Linked DNA regions of Homo sapiens. The protein of the gene in region 1 interacts with the protein of each later gene in a biochemical or structural test. Each region holds a gene or a part of one and is shown on either strand. Other genes may lie near its edges. The genes, in order: CCKBR and SLCO1B3.

Evidence for each region.
Region 2: the proteins of CCKBR (region 1) and SLCO1B3 form a complex in vitro, tested with the Homo sapiens proteins (one study listed by BioGRID).

Annotation. Positions count from the first base shown.
Region 1 is NC_000011.10:6,261,148-6,273,062, forward strand, and holds the end of CCKBR (gastrin/cholecystokinin type B receptor), read left to right. Parts: intron 1-8,521; coding exon 8,522-8,773; intron 8,774-8,940; coding exon 8,941-9,190; intron 9,191-9,498; coding exon 9,499-9,656; coding exon of another isoform or gene 9,657-9,863; coding exon 9,864-10,396; 3' UTR 10,397-10,980; downstream 10,981-11,915. UniProt on the Homo sapiens protein: Receptor for gastrin and cholecystokinin. The CCK-B receptors occur throughout the central nervous system where they modulate anxiety, analgesia, arousal, and neuroleptic activity.
Region 2 is NC_000012.12:20,810,741-20,822,655, forward strand, and holds part of SLCO1B3 (solute carrier organic anion transporter family member 1B3), read left to right. Parts: 5' UTR 1-24; intron 25-2,783; 5' UTR 2,784-2,898; intron 2,899-4,933; 5' UTR 4,934-4,998; coding exon 4,999-5,082; intron 5,083-11,807; exon of another isoform or gene 11,808-11,915. Other genes in the region: SLCO1B3-SLCO1B7 readthrough transcript protein, read left to right, coding at 4,999-5,082. UniProt on the Homo sapiens protein: Mediates the Na(+)-independent uptake of organic anions.

The DNA.
Region 1 (11,915 bases):
TCAGCCAATATTTATTGAACCAGAGATTGTGCTAGGCAGTGGGAATGTAAGTTGAACAAAACCGACACAATTCCTACTTCACAGAGCTCAAAGTTTAATGGGCGAGACAGAAAAGCAGGGGATTGCAGCACAAAGTGGAAGAGCCTTGACAGGGAAAAGATAGTGGGAACACAAGTGGAACACCTCTAGCCCAGCCCAGCCTCCTTGAGAATTAAAGTTGGCCTCTTGAGGAAATGAGCTACAAAGTCAAAAAAATTAGGGAGGCTGGCTCTAAGCTTCCTGTTGGCAAAAAAAAAAAAAAAAAAAAATATATATACACACACACACACACACACACACACACACACACACATATACATATGGGAGAGCCAGCCAAGTGAACGGGCAGAAGAGGCAGAAAGCATCCCAAATAAAAGGACAAGATGTATAAGAAGCTCAAAGTTTGAATTCATGGCACTTTTATCCACTGTGACATAGTTTTGAGTGACTAGAACATATATCTTAAGAAGGGAATAATGAACAGGCTGGAGACCAGCCTAGAGGGTTTGCAGAGAGCCTGCTAGGCCTGACCATGGAACATGGACTTTCTCCCGAGGGCAATAGGAACTACTAAAAGATTCGGTAGTACTACCAGGATTAGTTCTATAATGTGGAGAACGGATTGGAAGACATAAGATGGAAGGCAGGGGGATACTTTACAAGGTTACTATATTACACTGTTCTGGGTGAAAGATGATGCTAGCTGAGACTAAGGTAATGGCAAGGGAGATGGAGAGAGGTGGATAGATTTGAGAGCCTCTTCTGGAAATGGAATCAACAGATTAGAAGCAGAGAGGATGGAAGAGGTCAAGGGATGACATTCAGATTTCTAACTTGGACAACTGAATGGATATTGGTGCTATAGCAATTGTATACAATGAGAAAGATAACAAAACAGCAGAAACAGGTTTGGAAGAGGGAATTATAAATTCAGTTTGGAACCCATTGAGTTTAAATGTTAGTGGGGCATCCAGGTGAGGTTACCTAGTAAGCTGTTGAATCCAGGGGTCTGGAACTTACAGGAGAGGTCTGAGGTGGAAATACAGACTTGAAGAAGGTCTTTGCCTACAGGATGTAGAAGCCCCGAGAATAGTTAAAATCATAAAATTTTGTATAGAATGAGAAGAAAATAGGTCCTAGGTCAAGACTCTGCATAAGACCATTATTTAAAAGCCAGGCAGAGAAAGGAGAATTTATGAAGGAGATTCAGATGAAACCATCAGAAAGGCAGGAGCTACGCCCTTCCAGAAAGCAAGAAAAAGAGAGTTTCAAGCAGGTTGGGGTAAGTGATATCAAATGCTATTGACATAAGTTACATAAATAAAAAACAGGACAGTCAGAACAGCATCCTTCACATTCAATAACAAGAAAATATTTAGGAGTTGTAGGTATTGAGGCTTGACTATGGTAGGTTAAAGATTGGACTGGTGAGAGAAGGAGTTATGAGAAGTGAACCAAGGTATGTAGCCAAAACTTTCAAGAAGTCTGGTAGGCAAAGAAAGAGAGAGAGAGAGAGAGAGAGAGAGAGAGAGAGAGAGAAAGAAAAGCAGGATATTGCCAAAAATAGCATGAGATTGAGGAAGGGGGGAGTGGGTATGTGCATAGGTTTGTTACGTGTGTGCGCGTGTGTGTGCACGCATTTTAAAACAAGAGCTTTTTAAAATGTTTGTTGGTGATTGGGCCGAGAGAGGAAGATTGAAGGTGCAGATAAGAAAGGGGATAGTCAATAGAGAAGATTCCCTGTGAAAGCGGGATGTGACGCAATTCAGAGCACAGGTGCAAAAATTTGCCTCACTTATCTAAATGCTCCTCACACATTTGGATGTTACCCAGCCAGTCAGATGTTACACACAGAGACCCTGTCAGCCACACTCATTCAGATATTATCCCTGCAGATGCATAGGTTACCCAGGTTCACTCCAATGTTACCAATAGGAATTTGGATGTTACCACTTTATTCTCCTTATATAATCCATGCAGACTTGAGTATTACCCATGTTCACTCAGATAGTACCCACAGAAAGACAAATGTTACCACACTCACTTTAATATTGTCCGAAGTCATTTTGGTGTTACCCATCCATCAAACACTACTCACTTTCATTTTATTATTATCCACACACAACCAGATATTACCTATGCTCACTTAAGTAAGCTTTTCCCAGATACTACCCATAAAATTACAAATATTACTCTCACATACTCAGATAATACCCACAAAAGCTTAAATATTACTTACATTCACTCAGGTGCTCAGTTATTTCATTTACTCAGATTAACATCTTTTTTTTTTTTTTTTTTTTGAGGCAGTCTCCCTCTGTTGCCCAGGCTGGGGTGCAGTAGCATGATCATGGCTCATTGCAGTCTTGACCTCCGCAGGCTCAAGTGATCCTCCCACCTCAACCCCCTAAATAGCTGGGACTACAGGCATGTGCCACCACAAGTGGCTAATTTTTTGTATTTTTTGTAGAGATAGGGTTTTTCCATGTTGCCCAGGCTGGTCTCTAAATCCTTGGCTTAAGAGATCTGCCCACCTCAGCCTTCCAAAGTGCTGGGATTACAGATATAAGCCACCATGTCTGGCCCAGATTAACATCTTAATTTAGTTAACATGTTAACATCTAACATCTGTACTCAAATACTACCCATACATACTTGGATATTACTTCTGCTCAGTCAGCAATTTCTATCATTATTTGGATATTCCACTACTCACAAGTAGACCTCTGAATGTAATCTATGCTTCCTGAAGATGTTACCTACAAAATGTTATCTACAGAGAGTTGGATATTAACCCTTGCTCTTTCAAATGTTACTACAGTGACTCAGATATTATCTAAACTTAAATGTAAGCCATATTCAATCGGATATTACCTATAAGCATGTAGATGTTACCATTCTCCAGATATGTCCCACAGAAATAAGCGTGACTTTCACCTACCCATATACTATTTCAAAGATTAAAGTATGCCCAACACTCACTCTGATATTACCTACACACCCTTGCATATTACTTCTGCTCCCTCAGTACCCACTATGTGGATTCCCCCATTCACCCAGCCACTACCCACAGTCAGTTGGATGTGATCCCTGCTTATCATAGAGACAAGGGTATTACTTTGATGTCTGTGTGCATGGGTGAACAGATCAAACCTGCCAGTAGAATGCAGAATTTAAGGCATCAGCAGCTTCAGTGTTCTGTGGAGTTTTTCCTTAGAAAGTCTTGGTTTTCATTTTATGTCACGTTGTCTGGATTTTTGCACTCATACTTCTCTGCCATTATCTAGACAGAACAAATACAGATCTTCTAAACACCAGGAGAAGAACTGAACTGTCCCAATCTTCTGAGTCGCCTGGTCTGATGCCAGTTTTCCTCATCCCCAGGAAGATGATGAGATGATGCTCACGGGTAGACTTATCAAGGCACTTGTGGATGTACCCCAGCAGGTGCTATCTCCCATCCTTCTACCCATGCCTGTTTCCTAGTCACTGAAGCCACTGTCATCACTCATATTCCACCATGCAAACACACATCAATACACACACACACACACACACGCATACAAGTCTAAGTCTGATTTATTTTGTGCATGACTTTTTAAACTAATGGATTATTTTTAGAGCAGTTTTAAGTTTACAAAAATTACAGAGTGCCCATACACACACAACCACACATATACACAGAATTTACCCTATTATTAACAGCTTACATTAGTGTGGTACATGTGTCACAATTTATGAGCCAATATCAATACATTATTCTCTAAATTCTAGAGTTTACATTAGGGTTCACTTTTTGTGTTGTATGGTTCTATAGGTTTTGACAAATGTATAATGGCATGTATCCATCATTACAGTATCACACAGAATAGTTTCACTGCCCTAAAAATCCCCTGTACTTCATCTATTTATCCCTCGCTCTGCCTCTCCAAACTCCTGGCTCTAAAATTGCTTTTAATTAGAATTTTTCACATTTCTGAACTGTTCAACAGCAAAGACGTGTGGAGACAGTGGTGGCTGGAAATAAGATAATAGCTAGGAATGTCCAGTAAAACAGCAGAACACTGCACAGTTGCTGGTCATTTTTACTGGGACTTTGTCTTATAAATTTCAGGAGTCCCCAAGCATATTGCAAACTTTATAAGGGTAATATTTAGCTCCATCTTTATGGTCTATCACAATTAGCCAAGTTCAAGGGCACACACATGGGACATCAGCTGGATGAATGAATGAGAAATTGCTTTTCATGCTTCACAGTACTGTACCAATTTGAGGTGTGGCGAATTGCATCAATAATTAGTTGAAGAAAGACATCCAGGGCAGATGTAAGCAAGATAATGGAACTAGAAAGATTAAAGAGGTGGAGGCTGGGGGTGGGAGGACAATGGATTTGGAGAAGAAACAGTGAGTCCAAGATAAACCACCAGCTCTTTTCTGAGTCCAAGGACCTCTCTGACAGAGGTCTCCCTCCTAAAAGTCCTTTATTCTCCACCATACACACTTACTCCCCTCAAATTTTGTCACCTATAAGCCTTCTGTAATCCTTCCTTACAGAGAGAGGCCCAGCTTCTAAAGGAAATATAGATGGTTTGCATATAAAAAACAAAAGTTATGCATCTGAAATCATAACCTCTCACTGACCCCCACAAGGACCTTCCAACATGTGTCTCCAAAAAGACAGAGGCAAAGAAGAAGAAGAAAGGGCATGCTGGAGCACCTCTGCAGAGATGACGGATGGATGAGGAGGGGGAAAGCAGGTGCACTTCTGTCTTGAAAGACAGAATCATCCAAGATTCATTAACAAGCATGTGTTGACTGCCTCCCCTGTGCTAGGGATGATGAGTGCTAGGGATATACTGGAGAGCGAGATGGACCTTGCCACTGTCCTCAAGAAGCTCCTAGTCTAGTGGGGAAGACAGAGAATTACATACATACTAATACAGTGAAAAATGCCATGGTTGAGTATAGAGAGAGGGAGAAAGAGGCATTTAGATTGAGATTTGATTAAGAAGGAGGCAGTATGGGCCAGGCGTAGTGGCTCAAACCTGTAATCCCAGCACTTTGGGAGGCCAAAGCAGGTGATCACCTGAGGTCGGGAGTTCGAGACCAGCCTTACCAATATGGAGAAACCCATCTCTACTAAAAATACAAAATTAGCCGGGCGTGGTGGTGCATGCCTGTAATTCTAGCTACTCAGGAGGCTGAGGCAGGAGAATCGCTTGAACCCAGGAGGCAAAGGTTGCGGTGAGCCAAGATCATGCCATTGCACTCCAGCCTGGGCAACAAGAGCAAAACTCCATCTCAAAAACAAAAACAAAAACAAACAAACAAACAAAAAACATGGAGGTAGTATGATGAATAACAGAGTACTGCAGGAACAAACAGTAGGAGGCAAAGCACATTAGGGATCAGGGACTTGGCTTCTATTCTGATTCAGCCCCTTATCAGGTGTGTGGTCTTGAGCAAAGAATGTTACTGCTGAGTTCGGTTTGGAAGTTTTTATAAATAGCATTTATTTGATGCCTACAATTTCTAAATAAATTGGTTTTTGTTATGAGAAAATACAGTCATGCATTAACTAATGATGGGGATACCTTCTGAGAAATGCATCATTAGGTGATTTCATTGTGTAAACATCATAGAGTGTTTGTCACACAAACCTAGAAGGTATAGCCTACTACATACCTAGGCTATACGGTATAGCCTACTGCTCCCAGGCTGCAAACCTGTACAGTATATTACTGTGCTGAATATTGTAGGGAAGAGTAACACAATGTTATGTATTTGTGTATCTAAACATAGAAAAGGTACAGTGAAAATACAGCATAAAAGATAAACCATCATACACCTGTATAGGGCACGTACCGTTAATGGAACTTGCAGGAGTAGATGTTGCTCTGGCTAAGTCAGTGATGAGTGGTGAGTGAAAGTAAAGGCCTAGGACATTACTGTACACTACTGTAGACTTTATAAACACTGGATACTTAGGCTACACTAAATGTATTTAATAATAAATTAAACTTAGCATACTGTAACTTTTTACTTTATAAACTTTTTGACTCTTTTGTAATAACACAGTGTAAAACAAAAAACACATTGTATGGCTATACAAAAATATTTTCTTTTTTTATACTCTTATCCTATAAGCATTTTTCTGTTTTTAACTTTAGAAAAAAAAAAAACCTTTCTGTTAAAACCAAGACACAAACACACACATTGGGCTACACAGGGTCAGGATAAATATTGCCATCTTCCACCTCTACATCTTGTCCCACTGGAAGGTCATCAGGGCAACACCACACATGGAGCTGTCATCTCCTATAATAACGGTGCTTTATTCTGGAATACATCTTAAAGGACCTGCCTGAGTCTGTTTTATAGTTAACTTTTTTAAAAAAATAAGTAAGAGTATACTCTAAAATAATGATTGAAAGTATAATGTAGTAAATACATCAACCAGTCACACAGTCATTTATTATCACTATCAAGTATTATGTACATCATTGTATGTGCTAGGCTTTTATATGACTGACAGCACAGTAGGTTTGTTTATACCAGTATCCCCACAAACACATACGTAATGCATTATGCTGCAATGTTACAATAACATTACTAGGTGATAGAAACTTTTCAGCTCCATTATAATCTTTTGTTGTTGTTATTTTGGGTTTTGTTTGAGACAGAGTCTCACTCTGTTGTGCAGGCTGGAGTGCAGTGGCACTATCATAGCTCATTGCAGCCTTGAACTCCTGGGTTCAAGCAATCTTTCTGCCTCAAACTCCTGAGTAGCTATGACTATAGGCACGTATCACCACACCCAGCTAATTTTTTATGTTTTGTAGAGACGGGACTTTGCTATGTTGCTCAGGCTGATCTCAAGCTCCTGGCCTCAGGTGATCCTCCCGCCTTGGCCTCTCAAAGTGCTGGGATTACAAAGATAAGCCACTGCACTCAGCTGTTCATTACAATCTTATGAGACCACCATCGTATATGAAATTGGTCATTTACCAAAACATCGTTATTCAGTGCATGGCTGTAGTTTTCAATTTGGGAGCTAAAATGAGAATCAGTCAAAGTATGGGGCTCTGGAAGAGGGGGCTGCAGCTTTGAGGCTTTCCTTCTCTGCAATCTAGGAGGCTCTGTCCCCTGCCCTCTCTACCTTCCAGCTCTAATCCCTCTCATGCTGAGGCCATAGGTGTGAGTAATTCAGTCCTGTTCAATCCAATTCGATTTTATCTAAATCTGCTTGGCTGTGATGTGGTGGTCCAAAGATTAATCCATCTTTTAATAGACAATGACACAAAAGAATGGGGTCAGCCTCCCAGCCCCTCTGCCTCACACAGGTGTCCCTCCTATGAGCTCCAACAGCACCTTATACATCCTTCAGCCTCACTCCTTATCACATCTGTTTATGTATCTGAGTTTACTTCCCCACTGTGAGCTCTCAAATGGCAGGGATCTTGTCATGTTCATCTCTTTGTCCCCAGTGCCTAGCACAAAGGGAGTCCTCTGTAAATGTTTATAGAGTGAGAATGAATGTTTGGAGAGAATTAAAATACAAGGCAGAAGTAAAATAGGCTGTAATAGTTGTGTAAGAAACAGGCATGGGTCAGAGAAAGAGGAGAGTAGAAGGGCCTTACAGAAGGGCCTTACAGAAGAAGTAGCAGTCAATTTGAGTCTTGACCAACAAGGGATGAATAGGAATTCACCAGATACAGAAAATAAGCTTGTGATGAGGGGTAGAAGTTGTGAGGAGGGTTGGTAAAAGAGTATTCCGGTCTGAGAAACCAGCTTGAGCAGGGAGAGAGTCACAAGTGCAAATGATGCATTCAAGAAATTGAGTCATCCAGTGGCTTGCTTAAATGCCTGCTGTACAGGGAGGGGGTGGGAGAGAAAGAAGTCCCTTCTGGGAGGATCTTGATGATATTCTGAGGGGTTGCAGACAGTAGAGAGTAAGTGAAGTATTTTTTTTTTTTTTTTTTTTGCTTTTGTTTTTAGAGAATAAAGACATGATCTGATGTGATTCAAAAGGTAGTGGGTTGTCAACAGTGTAGAATACTCTAGCGGGGTCAAATAGAGTAGGCTAAGAAAGGACCTTTGAATTTAGCAGTTAAAGATTAGTGTACTTGGGAAGAAGTATGCACTGATAGGGCACAGAATATTGTATTGTAATGGAATGAAGAGTAAATGAGAAGACACAAATATCCTCTTAAGAAGTTTGTCTGCAGAAAGAAGGAAAGATTTGGAACGAACCTTGAGAAGAGACAGGCTTTCTTAAGGAAGGGCAGAGTTGGGCCAATTTAACCAAACCTCAAGGGGTTAGAAGGCTAAAGGATTCAAGTTCACCATTTACTGAGCAGTTCATCGGTGGGGAATGTAGGCATCTGGCTGGGTAGTGAGGGTTGGGGATAAGACGGAAGGAGGGGGATTTGACTGAATGAAGGCTGACCCCCTACTGCCACCTCTCCCTTTTCTTACCCAGAATTGGAGCTGGCCATTAGAATCACTCTTTACGCAGTGATCTTCCTGATGAGCGTTGGAGGAAATATGCTCATCATCGTGGTCCTGGGACTGAGCCGCCGCCTGAGGACTGTCACCAATGCCTTCCTCCTCTCACTGGCAGTCAGCGACCTCCTGCTGGCTGTGGCTTGCATGCCCTTCACCCTCCTGCCCAATCTCATGGGCACATTCATCTTTGGCACCGTCATCTGCAAGGCGGTTTCCTACCTCATGGGTGGGTGAGACAACCACCCCACCCCCACTTGCCACTCTCCCCGCCTAAAGCTCTTGTGGATGTAGGGGTCTTCCCCGGTTGGCAGGGAGGGGTGTGAGGAAGTCCCACTGATGCTTGTGTAGTGCAAGTTTCCTAGGTGACTCCTTCCTTTCTCTTCCCTTGTTTAGGGGTGTCTGTGAGTGTGTCCACGCTAAGCCTCGTGGCCATCGCACTGGAGCGGTACAGCGCCATCTGCCGACCACTGCAGGCACGAGTGTGGCAGACGCGCTCCCACGCGGCTCGCGTGATTGTAGCCACGTGGCTGCTGTCCGGACTACTCATGGTGCCCTACCCCGTGTACACTGTCGTGCAACCAGTGGGGCCTCGTGTGCTGCAGTGCGTGCATCGCTGGCCCAGTGCGCGGGTCCGCCAGACCTGGTGAGCTTGCCCATAAACTATCCTAGGAATTCCTTTCTCACCCCTATTAGATGCTTACGACCATTGCCCAGAATCTTCCTCCAGCTTCCCGGAGAATTACCACGCCAACTCCTATTCTGCATCCACCACCCTGGAGTTCCAGTTTGGGGCCCCTCCCCAGTTCTCTCTCCCTTCCCAGCGGCACCCCCAAATCCTACTCCTACTTCAGGTACCTGGCCACAGCCCTAGAAACACTAGTCCTTGGCTTTTTCTCCATCTGTGATTACAGCTGGACAGAAACCCGAGTGATCTGTCTGTGTTGCCTTCAGGTCCGTACTGCTGCTTCTGCTCTTGTTCTTCATCCCGGGTGTGGTTATGGCCGTGGCCTACGGGCTTATCTCTCGCGAGCTCTACTTAGGGCTTCGCTTTGACGGCGACAGTGACAGCGACAGCCAAAGCAGGGTCCGAAACCAAGGCGGGCTGCCAGGTGGGGCTGGACCACGTGAGCAAAATCTGGGCGAGGCGGAGCTTTGGAGGGCGACGGGGCCTGCTGGAGTGGGTGGGACTGAAATGAAGGTGAGGGTGAGAAGGAAGCTGGAAATGGAGTTGAGCTGGGAGCGGAGGTCAGGTGGGGACTGGGCTGGAGACTGGGGGGACTCGCCTTTTTCTCTGACCGCCCACCCTTTGTGCTCAGGGGCTGTTCACCAGAACGGGCGTTGCCGGCCTGAGACTGGCGCGGTTGGCGAAGACAGCGATGGCTGCTACGTGCAACTTCCACGTTCCCGGCCTGCCCTGGAGCTGACGGCGCTGACGGCTCCTGGGCCGGGATCCGGCTCCCGGCCCACCCAGGCCAAGCTGCTGGCTAAGAAGCGCGTGGTGCGAATGTTGCTGGTGATCGTTGTGCTTTTTTTTCTGTGTTGGTTGCCAGTTTATAGTGCCAACACGTGGCGCGCCTTTGATGGCCCGGGTGCACACCGAGCACTCTCGGGTGCTCCTATCTCCTTCATTCACTTGCTGAGCTACGCCTCGGCCTGTGTCAACCCCCTGGTCTACTGCTTCATGCACCGTCGCTTTCGCCAGGCCTGCCTGGAAACTTGCGCTCGCTGCTGCCCCCGGCCTCCACGAGCTCGCCCCAGGGCTCTTCCCGATGAGGACCCTCCCACTCCCTCCATTGCTTCGCTGTCCAGGCTTAGCTACACCACCATCAGCACACTGGGCCCTGGCTGAGGAGTAGAGGGGCCGTGGGGGTTGAGGCAGGGCAAATGACATGCACTGACCCTTCCAGACATACGAAACACAAACCACAACTGACACAGGAAACCAACACCCAAAGCATGGACTAACCCCAACGCACAGGAAAAGGTAGCTTACCTGACACAAGAGGAATAAGAATGGAGCAGTACATGGGAAAGGAGGCATGCCTCTGATATGGGACTGAGCCTGGCCCATAGAAACATGACACTGACCTTGGAGAGACACAGCGTCCCTAGCAGTGAACTATTTCTACACAGTGGGAACTCTGACAAGGGCTGACCTGCCTCTCACACACATAGATTAATGGCACTGATTGTTTTAGAGACTATGGAGCCTGGCACAGGACTGATTCTGGGATGCTCCTAGTTTGACCTCACAGTGACCCTTCCCAATCAGCACTGAAAATACCATCAGGCCTAATCTCATACCTCTGACCAACAGGCTGTTCTGCACTGAAAAGGTTCTTCATCCCTTTCCAGTTAAGGACCGTGGCCCTGCCCTCTCCTTCCTTACCCAAACTGTTCAAGAAATAATAAATTGTTTGGCTTCCTCCTGAACTTCCTTTCTGGATTCTTCTGGGGCAGGTGAGGAGGCATAGGATTTTGCAGTATCCTTCTGTCGGGTCTCTCCCACTGTTGCACACTGCTGTGCACAACCCCTTGCCAGAAAGCCCAGCCTCTGAGGTTCAGCGTGGCTGTGCATATTCTTTCTGAGTTTTCATCCTCTACCTACATTCCAATGTTGCAATAACTGTGAATGGGGATGGAAAATGGCATATCCATGACATATCATGATTCCTGATCACATTATCCCAAAGTGGTGCCACTGTTAAGGTACTATATTAATGGATGCTTATTAAATTTTGATGAAAAGATAAAAGAGGAAGCACTGTATAATAAGACTAAGTTTATTCAATGTGTGTTTGAAACACCAGAGATCAGACCATGACAGGTATACAGAATGAATACAGTTAATTAAAGAGTAGGGATTTTTTGCTGTACTCTCTTCCCCAGTGTCAAAACCTGGCCAAGATTCTGCCAAATGGAAGCACTTTTAGTAGCTACAACAAAAAAAGACCTGAATAGGAGTCTGAGAACCCAGTCTCCCTTTTACTATAAGAATGATCTAGCCCCAGAGACAGGCAAAGACCAACAATATCACCTCTTTACACACAATGACAAATGAGGAAGAACAGGAACTGAGGACCTCACTAAGAGGACATACGTGGATAATCAGAGGCATAGTATATTGGAGGAGGGGTCTTTTGATGCTTCATCTTGTAACAGACAGGGGAAACTGAGGCCCAGAGCAGGAATGTAAGCTGCCTAAGGTCATACAGTAAGTTAGAGCAAGATAGAATAATGGTGTTGAAGTAGACCCTGGGCTGGAGATGGGGAAGAAGACCCACCCATGAGGAGCAGAGACAAGTTTTGTGGGACCTAAAGTTTATAAAATCGGGTACTCTTTTTTTAAGAAAGAAAAAGAATACAAA
Region 2 (11,915 bases), on another chromosome or scaffold:
GTTGCTGTAGCATTCAAAGTCAAGGTAAGAACCGTCGAGGTTGTCTAATTAAAACATTTCTTTTATGTAAGAAATTTTAACAAATTTCAGTGAAAATGTTTTTGGTAGTTATGATAAATATTACAGATTTTATGCTCTGTGTCTTCTCCACACTTTTGTTCTGAGCCCTTAAAGCCTTGTAAATATCCCTTCTAGAAATAGAAGAGCCTCAGATTTATATACTCAAAAATAAGAGTAAATCATACCTTTATAAAGTGAAAAATAAAGTTTGGAGTCCTATTTCTATTGCTTTCTAAACAAATGAAACATGAAGTCTGAAAGGATGGACTTCTAGTTACTCTCTTAAAATATACTATAAGATAATTATTTGTATAAACTGTATTGAATTACTATACCAGGCTCCCTATTTCTTTGATTTCACTTTAACTGGATAAGTAGGAGTGGGCGGGTGGAGGGGTGGAAAATATGTTTCAAAGTCACTTAATCACCTCACTTTCCTCCATTCAACTCGTTTGATTTAGGGTGAGGGGAAAGAGATTTTCTAGATAACTTTTTTATCTCTGTTCAAATAAGAGAAAAAAATCTTCTGGGCACAGCTCTTGGAAAGAATTAACAGCTCAATAAATAATGGTCCCCTTCACCCATTCAGGAAGGTGGCTTCCCTGATAAGACAGTTATTTTTATTGTGAAAGTAAGGTGGGGATGCAGAAATTCTCTCCTCTGAACAATCTAAGAAGTTAGGAAATGCTGTTTTCCCTTTTATCCTCCTCAGTTCCATAGGTACATGCTAGAAACTGGGTCACTTGGCCTGCACTGGTTTTCTATAACCCCTTAAATATGAAAAGCTAAACAGAAATAAGCAGAGGCTGGTAAGATTCTGCCCTCTACTTCAGCCCAATCAAACTGTGAAGAACTGACCTGTTCTGTTCAGGGAAGAGTTGCAATGCTGCATACAAATGCCTGTGGCTCTGTCTATAAACATATTGTGTCCTCAACATTTATTTATGTCAATAATTTGGAACTCAGAAATAATATGTTCAGAGCAAAATATATTAAACGCTTCTAAATAAGGCTTAAAATGCCACAATGAAGTAAAAAGTGTGGTATTTATTCAAGGCTAAATTGATATTCAAGTTTTGTAGGTACTTTGTACTTACTTGATACATTTTTTTTTTTTTTTTTTTGAGAAGGAGTTTCGCTCTTGTTGCCCAGGCTGGAGTGCAATGGCGTGATTTCAGCTCACCACAACCTCAGCCTCCTGGGTTCAAGTGATTCTCCTGCCTGAGCTTCCAGAGTAGCTGAGATTACAGGCATGTACCACCACACCCAGCTAATTTTGTATTTTTGGCAGAAATGGGGTTTCTCTGTGTTGGTCAGGCTGGTCTCGAACTCCCAACCTCAGGTGATCTGCCCGCCTCGGCCTCCCAAAGTGCTGGGATTACAGGCATGAGTCACTGCTCCCGGCCTACTTGATACAATTTAACCTTTCTGAGAGATGAGAAACCAAGTGCCCACATTTCTTATTTTTCTGGATGGGTATTTTATCTGAACATAAAAGAGAGAGGTGTGGAATAGTTGTCTTGGAAAGTACGGGAAATAACAGAAAAAAGTAATGATTATTCGGGTATGTTCTCCAGTGGTACAGAAGGATGAGAGGATGAGAGAGTTTATTTCAACTAGAGGTAAATAGGGAAACATTAAAGTGGTGTGATTTGGAGCCGCATTACAGCCAAGAGATAGGGAAGGACATTCCAGGAATGGAAGACATATACATGAAGGTAGAGAGCTTTTCTGTTGGGACAGTGGTTCCATACATCTGCAAGTGCTTATGGTTGTATTGGGAAATGGGACTAAAAACTTGGATTCATTTAGGCTGTGAAGACCCTCAAATAGGAAGTGTAAGTTTTATTTTTGTTGTAAGAGGGATCTTTGAATGATTCCAAGAATGGACATGATATGCATAGGAAAGAAAGCAAGCTGGAAGACAGGACAAGTAGAAATTAATCAATTGAAAGAAACAAGGCTTGAGTGGTGAGATAATAGTCTTCAAGCCTTCAAGAATATTTGTTTAGTATAAAGAAAAAGAAAACTCTAAAGCTGAAGGAAGACTATCTGCCTTGCAAGTCGTTCAAAAAGATTTGCAATTATAGAATTAATTGGTAAAAAATAAATATTTTCCAACTTTTAAATTATGAAGAAACAGAGATATTCGTGGAAAAAGTGGTGTAAATTTATTAAGGGGCTGCTTATTACCTTGAGACCACCAAATTATTGATTTTTTTCCTCACTTTACCTACAAAACACATACAAAAAGTGGAATAATTGAACTTCTCTTAGAGATACATAGGTATGGGTTTCTCCATTCATGAGTGTATTTATATACACTCGCATATACATAAGTGATAATATCTTCAGATATTGATTTTTCCATATTCATGCATTATCCACTAAATATGCATGATATATATTTATGGTTTTTATGCATTTATAATATAGAGAATCAATAAATCCTTGTTGAGTAAATTAATGCATAAAATATGCAGTAGATCTTCATTATTCACAGATTCTATATTAGAAAATTTGTCTAAACACTAAAATTTGTTTGTGACACCAAAATTAATACTGCTGGGCTTTTGTGATCATTGGCATGCATGAGCAGAGTGGTGAAAAATTTGAGTTGCTCTGTTTCCAGTTGAAGTGGAACAAAGTGAAGCTCTGCCTTCCTCTCTCAGCTCCCATACTATAAACTTCACAGTGCATTTATCGCCACATTGTTTCCATAGTTGTGCTTTGCGATGCTGAGTTTACTGTTTTAAATGGACTTCAAGCATAGCCCTGAAGTGTTGTCCCGTTGTTCCCACCTCCTAGAGGGCCTGACAGAAGAGGTACATATGCTATGTAAGTTTCCCTCAGGCATGAACTACAGTGCTATTGGCCACTAATTCAATGTTAATGAATCAACAGTATATACTAAGGTGTCTTTAAACAAAAACATACATAAAACATTATGTATTAAGTTATGTATTGATCCGTTGATTAAAATATTGTGACCAAAGCCACACAGTCACCTAACACTGTATCTCTTCTAGGAATGATGGATTAATATTTGCAAATTCAGTGTTCCCAGCAACTTTATGGAACATAATTATTGCAAAACGTGAGAATCAATTGTACATATAACCTATATCATACATATTATATAATCAGTATCCTATTACAAATCGGATGCTTATATAGATAACATTGATATTTACATACTTAGATATTTACATATCTAAGGTATCTATATGAGCAGCTACATAGCAAGTATCTACATAGCATGTATCCACATATATATGCTATATACATAACATATACCTATATCTATGTTATGTGTCTGCTTATATACTTTATATACATAAATATGTGTTATGCATATATGTATGAACAAGAATACATCTCTAAACCTTATAAATATTCCACTGTTCTATATAAAAGAGTCAACTGACGTAAAAAGTTGACTCATTTTACTGGTCTTTAAAATAGGGGCTTAATAACTCTGAAACTTATGATTTCTCATATACTTTGACTTCAAAACTTCACTTGTAGGAATTTATCCTACAGATATGACCACACAGAAAATGACATATAACATATTAAGAACATTTTCTAATATGAAATAATTAGATATAAGCTAAATAGTTAACGATATAGAACTAGTTACATATATTATGAACAACAGAATACCCTGCTACCATAAGCAAAATGAGGACTTTTATTAATATAAAGTATATACAGAAGATAAAAAGGTAGAGTGCAGTAATACTGGTATGCTTACATTTATATTAAAAGAGAAAATATTATGTATTTAATTAAAAATGCATATTAAGGCTGGGCGCGGTGGTTCACGCCTGTAATCCCAGCACTTTGGGAGGCCGAGGCGGGCGGATCAGGAGGTCAGGAGATCGAGACCATGCTGGCTAACACGGTGAAACCCTGTCTCTACTAAAAATACAAAACAATTAGCCGGGCGTTGTGGCACGCACCTGCGCCTGTGGTCCCAGCTACTCAGGAGGCTGAGGCAGGAGAATGGCGTGAACCTGGGAGGCAGAGCTTACAGTGAGCCGAGATCACGCTACTGCCCTCCAGCCCGGGAGACAGAGCAAGACTCCGTCTCAAAAAAAAAAAATAAAAAAGCATACCAGATTTCTGGATAAGGGGACAAAGGTTATAAGCAGAATCTTGCCTTTTCTTTTCTTTTCTTTTTTTTTTTTTTTGCATTTTTCAACTACATGCATGTATTTTCTCTTGAAAAATAAGTGGATAAACCCTAAATACAGTAAGATCATGATGATGGTAAGGTCAAGCATGGCCAGAGTCTCTCTGAGAGATACTTGGAATATATTTTGCTCTTTTAAACAAATCCAAACTTTATCTGCTTTTTGAGCCTTGTTCCATAGGCATCTCCTCTATGAAACTGACTGAGGCTATCCTAATCATTATTATTTACATTATTTTTCAACCCATTTTGAGTATCCACTATGTGCAAGTCATCATTTGGCACTTTATAAACTTATAAGGATAACGTAAACATAAATTTCCTTTCATAAATCTTGTAATCTGGATATGTAGAAAATATAAAAATTTTAATTTCTATAATTTAAAATTGTTGTTCATACAATCTAGTGTGTGGTTTTATATTATTTACTTGTTTCAAATTTCTCTCTATGAAAATTATTTTTCTAAGCAAATTATAATCTCTTTAGGCTAGGAGTTTGTCTCTGTCTTTCCTCCTCTGTGTCCAGCATTGACCTAGTCCTGTGGTCAGGAAATAGCAGGCCCTGAATGAATATTAGAGAATGATTGATTGATTGATATTGAGCTTGTGGCTTTTCCTATTTTTAAATTGTATATTGTTAAAGTAAAATAAATTATACTTTTTCTTTTTTAACAGGTGATCATTTCAAACCAAGCATCAGCAACAATTAAAAATATTCACTTGGTATCTGTAGTTTAATAATGGACCAACATCAACATTTGAATAAAACAGCAGAGTCAGCATCTTCAGAGAAAAAGAAAACAAGACGCTGCAATGGATTCAAGGTAGAATGGGTTTTATATTTTCAAACTAAAATAAGTTAATGGAAAATTTTTATGTATAGAAAGGCCACTAACTGTCAAAAAGAACATTATATCTCATATTACAATTTTTCCATTGAAGCGTACATTAAAATATTAACAAAATAATCCCTATATTGATTTAAATCAGTTTTTAATCTGATTGAAGTTATTTCTTTGCTAGAATTTTTTGATGAATAAAGGTTTATTTATTTTTAACTTTTTAATTTTTAATTTTTGTGGGTATGTAGTAGGTATGTATGTTTATGGGGTACATGAGATGATTTGGTACAGGCATGCAATGTGAAATAAGCAAATAATGAACAATGCGGCATCCATTTCCTCAAGCATTTTTTCATTGAGTTGCACACCATCCAATTATACTTTATTTTAAAAGGTACAGTTAAGTAATTGACTATAGTCACCCTGTGGGCTATCAAATAGTAGGTCTTATTCATTCTTTTTAACTATTTTTTGTACCCATAAATCATCCCCATCTTCCTACCCCCACACCCCCATGACCCTTTCCAGCCTCTGGTAACCATCCTTCTACTCACTGTGTCCATGAATTCAATTGTTTTGATGTTTAGATCCCACAAATAACTGAGAACATGCAATGTTTGTCTTTCTGTGCCTGGATTATTTCAGTTAACATAATGATCTCCAGTTCATTTTGTTGCAAATGACTAGATTTCATTCTTTCTATAGCTGAATAGTACTCCATTGTGTATATGTCCCACTTTTTTTTACGCATTCATCTGCTGATGCACACTTACATTGCTTCCATATCTTAGTTATTGTAAACAGTGCTGCAACAAACATGGAAGTACAGATAATCTTAGATATACGAATTCGCTTTCTTTTGGGTATATACCCAGCAGTGGGATTGCTGGATCACGTGGTAGCTCAATTTTTAGTTCCTTGAGGAACCTCCAGACTGTTCTTCATAGTGGTCCTACTAATTTTTATTGCTACCAACAGTGTACAAGGAATTCCTTTTACTCCACAACCTCACCAGCATTTGTTATTGCCTGTCTTTGGGATATAAGCCATTTTAACTGGGGGTGAGATAGCATCTCATTGTAGTATTGATTTGCATTTCTCTGATGATCACTGATGTTGAGCACTTCTTCCTATGCCTGTGTGCTATTTGTATGTCTTCTTTTGAGAAATGTATATTCAAATATTTTGCCTACCTTTTGATCGGATTATTAGATTTGGTCCTATAGAATTGTTTGATCTACTTAGACATTCTGGTGATTAATTCCTTGACAGATGGGTAGTTTACAAATATTTTCTCCTACTCTGTGGGTTGTCTCTTCACTTTGTTGATTGTATCCTTTTCTATGCAGAAACATTTTAACTAGATGTGATCCTGTTTGTCAATTTTTCTTTGGTTGCCTGTGTTTCTGGGGTAAGAAATTTGCTCAAGAAATTTTTGCCCAGATGAACGTCCTGGAGAGTTTCCCCAATATTTTATTGAGGTAGTTTTATGGGTTGAGGTCTTTAGATTTAAGTCTTTAGTTCATTTTGATTTGTTTTTGTATATGGCTAGAAATAGGGGTCTAGTTTCATCCTAGCACCATTTATTGAAGTGACTGTCTTTTCCCCATTGAATGTTCCTGGCACCTTTGTCAAGAATAAGCTCACTGTAGGTGTGTGGATTTGTTTCTGGGTTCTCTATTCTGATTCATTGGTCTATGTGTCTGTTTATATGCCAGTACCATGCTGTTTTGGTTACTATAACTCTATAGTATAATTTTTTTTTGAGATGGAGTCTCGCTCTGTCACCCAGGCTGGAGTGCAGTGGCATGATCTCGGCTCACTGCAAGCTCCACCTGCTGGGTTCATGCCATTATCCTGCCTCAGCCTCCTGAGTAGCTGGGACTACAGGCACCCGCCACCACACCCAGCTAATTTTTTTTTTTATTTGTAGTAGAGATGAGGTTTCACCATGTTAGCCAGGATGGTCTCGATCTCCTGACCTCGTGATCCGCCTGCCTCGGCCTCCGAAAGTGCTGGGATTACAGCTTGAGCCACCGTGCCTGGCCACTCTGTAGTCACTCTTCTAGAGTGGCAGTTTGGGGATAGCACCAGGAGATATCAGCTGTGATGGCTTGGAGAAACGGTGTAAACCAGCAGTGTAAACAAGAGCAGGGCATGTATGAGTAGTTGAGAACGGTGAATAGGAGTATGACTAGACAGAAGATAGTAGGGATGAAAAGTTTTTTTGGGGCACAGTCTAAGTTGGTCTGGTGTCTGGAATGAGACTGGGGCCTAATAAAAAGGAGCGTCTATACAGGAGCTTAAATGGGCTGTACCTTGTAGCATTCTGAGGACAGGTCTGACTTCTGAGAAGGGAAAGTGGTAAAAGTAGTGTCCAGTCCTTTTTAAGTTGGTGGCTGAGCTTGGTGAGGTGTGTTTTTAATAGACTATTAGTTTGTCACTGGATACTAAGAGCCTAAAAAAATGCTTGACTGATTTGACTAATAAGGGCTGGTCTTTTATCAGACTGTATAGAGGTGGGAAGGCTAAACTGAGGAATTATGTCTGACAGAAGGGAAGAAATGACTGCAGTGGCCTTCTCAGACCCTATAGGAAAGGCCTCTACCTATCTAGTGAAAGTGTCTACTTAGACAAAGAGGTATTTTAGTTTTTGGGACTCGGGGTATGTTGAGTAAAGCTAATTTGCCAGTCCTGGGTGGGGGCAAATCCTCGAGCTTGTTGTGTAGGGAAGGGGCCTGAATAATCCTTGAGGAGTAGCAGATGGAATAGCAGATGGAACACTAAGAAGTTATTTCCTTGAGGATAGATTTCTACGATGGAAAGGAAATGAAAGGTTCTAAGAGGCGGGCTAGTGGCTTGTACTATAGCATAGCCTGCCTTTGCTGGTGTGTGGTGATTAGGCCTGGTGGAACTGCCATCAATAAATCAAGCGTGATCAGGGTGAGAAACAGGGACGAAGGAAATGTGGGGAAATGGGATGAACATCAGGTGGATCAGAGAGATGCAGTCATGAGGGTCAGGTGTGGTGTCTGGAATAATGTGGGAGGCTGGATTGAAGTCCGGGCCAGGAACAATGGTAATTGTGGGACTTAACAAAGAGTGAGTACAGCTGAAGGAGCCAGGGAGCAGAAAGTATATGCGTCAGGTATGAGGAAGAAAATAGATTTTGGAAGTTATGAGAAATGTAGAGAGTGAGTTGAGCATAGTTTGTGATTTTGAGGGCCTCTAAAAGTACTAAAGCAGCGGCAGCCGCTGCACGCGGACATGAGGGCTAGGCTAAAACAGTAAGGTCAAGTTGTTTGGACAGAAAGGCTACAGGGTGCGGTCCTGGCTCTTGTGTAAGAATTCTGACCACATTAACCATGCCTAGGAAGGAAAGGAGTTGTTGTTTTGTAAGGGATTGAGGTTTGGGAGATTAATCGGACACGATCATCAGGGAGAGCATGTGTGTTTTTACGAGAATTATGCCGAGATAGGTAACAGATGAGGATGAAATTTGCGCTTGACTGAAGTAATGGGGTCTGTCTGTGAAGCCTTGTGGCAGTGCAGCCCAGGTAATTTGCTGAGCCTGATGGGTGTCAGGGTCAGTCCAAGTGAAAGCGAAGAGAGGCTTGGATGACTGGTGCAAAAGAATAGTAAAGAAAGCATGTTTGAGATCCAGAACAGAATAATGGATTGTGGAGGGAGGTATTGAGGATAGTAGAGTATATGGGTTTGGTACCATGAGGTGGATAGGCAAAATAATTTGGTTGATAAGGCATAGATCCTGAGCTAACTTGTAAGGCTTGTCTGGTTTTAGGACAGGTAAAATGGGGGAATTGTAAGGAGAGTTTATAGGCTTTAAAAGGCCATGCTGTAGCAGGCGAGTGATAACAGGCTTTAATCCTTTCAAAGCATGCTGTAATGGGATATTGGCACTGAGCGGGGTAAGGGTGATTAGGTTTTAATGAGATGATAAGGGGTGCATGATCGGTCACCAAGGAGGGAGTAGAGGTATCTTATACTTGTGGGTTAAGGTGGGGGAATACAAGAAGAGGATGCAAAGGAGGCTTTGGATTGGGAAGAAGGGCAGCAATGAGATGCGGCTGTAGTCCAGGAATAGTCAGGGAAGCAGATAATTTGGTTAAAATATCTCGGCCTAATAAGGGAACTGGGCAGGTGGGGATAACTAAAAAAGAGTGCATAAAAGAGTATTGTCTAAGTTGGCACCAGAGTTGGGGAGTTTTAAGAGGTTTAGAAGCCTGGCTGTCAATACCCACAACAGTTATGGAGGCAAGGGAAACAGGCCCTTGAAAAGAAGGTAATGTGGAGTGGGTAGCCTCCATATTGATTAAGAAGGGGACGGACTTACCCTCCACTGTGAGAGTTACCTAAAGCTCGGCGTCCGTGATGGTCTATGGGGCTTCTGAGGTGATCAGGCAGCATCAGTCTTCAGCCGCTACGCCAAGAAGGAGTCAGTCAGAGAGCCTTGGGCCAGAGTTCCAGGGGCTCTGGGAGTGGCTGCCAGGTGAGTTGAACAGTCCGATTTCCACTGGGGTCCCACACAGATGGGACACGGCTTAGGAGGAATCCTGGGCTGCGGGCATTACTTGGCCTGGTGGTCAGATTTCTGGCACTTGTAGCAAGCTCCTGGGGGAGGAGGTTCTGGAGGAATGCCTGGCCACTGAGGTTCAGGCGTTTGGAAGTTCTTGTGTGCTGGAGATGTGGCTGGGGTTTGTCTCACAGTGGAGGCAAGGAATTGCAACTTTGTTTTATTACTGTACACCTTGAAAGTGAGGTTAATTAAGTCCTGTTATGGGGTTTGAGGGCCAGATTCCAATTTTTGGAGTTTTATTTAATGTCAGGAGCAGATTGGGTAATAAAATGTATATTGAGAATAAGATGGCCTTTTGACCTTTTAGGGTCTAGGGCTGTAAAGCATCTCAGGGTTGCTGCCGAATGAGCCATGAACTGGGCTGGGTTTTTATATTTGATGAAAAAGAGCCTAAACGCTTCTGATTTGGGATAAAGAAAAAGGAGCATTAACCTTGACTATGCCTTTGGCTCCAGCCACCTTTTTAAGAGTAAATTGCTGGGCAGGTGGGGGAGGGGTAGTCATGGAACAAAACTGTAAGCCGGATCAGGTGTGAGGAGGGGAGGCGATAAAAAGTTTATAGGGTGGAGGAGCAGAGGCTGAGGAAGAATTGGGAACTAGCTCGGCCTGGCGAGGAGGGGAGAGGTCAGATGGGTCTGTAGAAAAGGAAGATTAGAAAGACTCAGCGACGCTTGGGGTTGGGCCTGAGGGGACAGGCGGGAGGGAAAGAAGGAAGATTTGGGATGAATTGCATTGGGCAGAGACTAGGAAGGGACTGATGTGTAAAAGAATGCCTGGACATCAGGCACCTCAGACCATTTGCCCGTTTTACGACAAGAATTATTTAGGTCTTGTAGGATGGAAAAATTGAAAGTGCCGTTTTTCTGGCAATTTGTAACTACTGTCGAGTTTGTACTGGGGTCAAGCGGCATTGCAGAAGAAAAAAGACGCTTAGATTTTAGGTCAGGTGAGAGTTGAAGAGGTTTTAAGTTCTTAAGAATACAGGCTAAGGGAGAAGAAGGAGGAATGGAAGGTGGAAGCTAGTCCATAGTGAAGGAGGCAAGCCCAGAGAAAAGAGTAGAGACACGGAGAAGTGATGGGGGTTTCTTGCCCTCCAGAAAAGCAGAGAAAGGGTTGGGGCACGGAAATAAGGGATTGGGGGTTCTTGCCCCCTAGAAAAGCGGGACTTGCCACTAAGGGTGAAGGAGAAGGGGTTGAGGGGTACTTGCCCCTCCCCCAGAAAAGCAGAGAAGGGGTAGAGACATGGAGAGAAGGGGTTGGGGTACTTGCCCCTCCCCCAGAAAAGCGGGACTTGCGGCTAAGGGTGAAGGACCAAGGCAGGCATCCCTGCGTGGTCTGACACCTTTGAAATGTGGGTGAATAATCAGAGAGGCATCCCTGCAATGATTAAACACCAAGGGAAGGCTGCCTTCCCAGTCCGTGACCGGCACCGGAGTTTTGGGTCCACGGATAAAACATGTCTCCTTTGTCTCTATCCGAAAATGAAAGGAATTGAAATTAAGAGAAGGGAGAGATTGAAGTGTGGTGTCAAGATTGAAAGGAGAAAGAGGTTGAGGGATAGTGAAGGAAGTTGGAGAAGAGAGTAAAAAGAGGCCGCTTACCGGATTTGAAATTGGTGAGATGTTTCTTGGGCTGGTCGGTCTGAGGACCTGAGGTCGTAGATGGATCTTTCTCACGGAGCAAAGAGCAGGAGGACGGGGGATTGATCTCCCAAGGGAGGTCCCCCGATCCAAGTCACGGCACCAAATTTCATGTGTGTCCATGTGAAGAGACCACCAAACAGGCTTTGTGTGAGCAATAAAGCTGTTTATTTCACCTGGATGCGGTTGGGCTGAGTCCGAAAAGAGAGTCAGTGAAGGGAGATAAGGGTGGGGCCGTTTTATAGGATTTGGGAAGGTAAAGGAAAATTACAGTCAAAGGGGGTTGTTCTCTGGTGGGCAGGGGCGGGGGTCACAAGGTGCTCGGTGGGGGAGCTTCTGAGCCAGGAGAAGGAAATTCAAAGGGTTAGTCACTCAGTTAAGGTGGGGCAGGAACAAATCACAATGGTGGAATGTCATCAGTTAAGGCGGGGCAGGGCCTTTCACTTCTTTTGTGATTCTTCAGTTACTTCAGGCCATCTCGGCGTATACGTGCAAGTCACAGGGGATGGGATGGCTTGGCTTGGGCTCAGAGACCTGACAGTGGCAATGTATGGCCACGTTACTGAATCTACATGTTG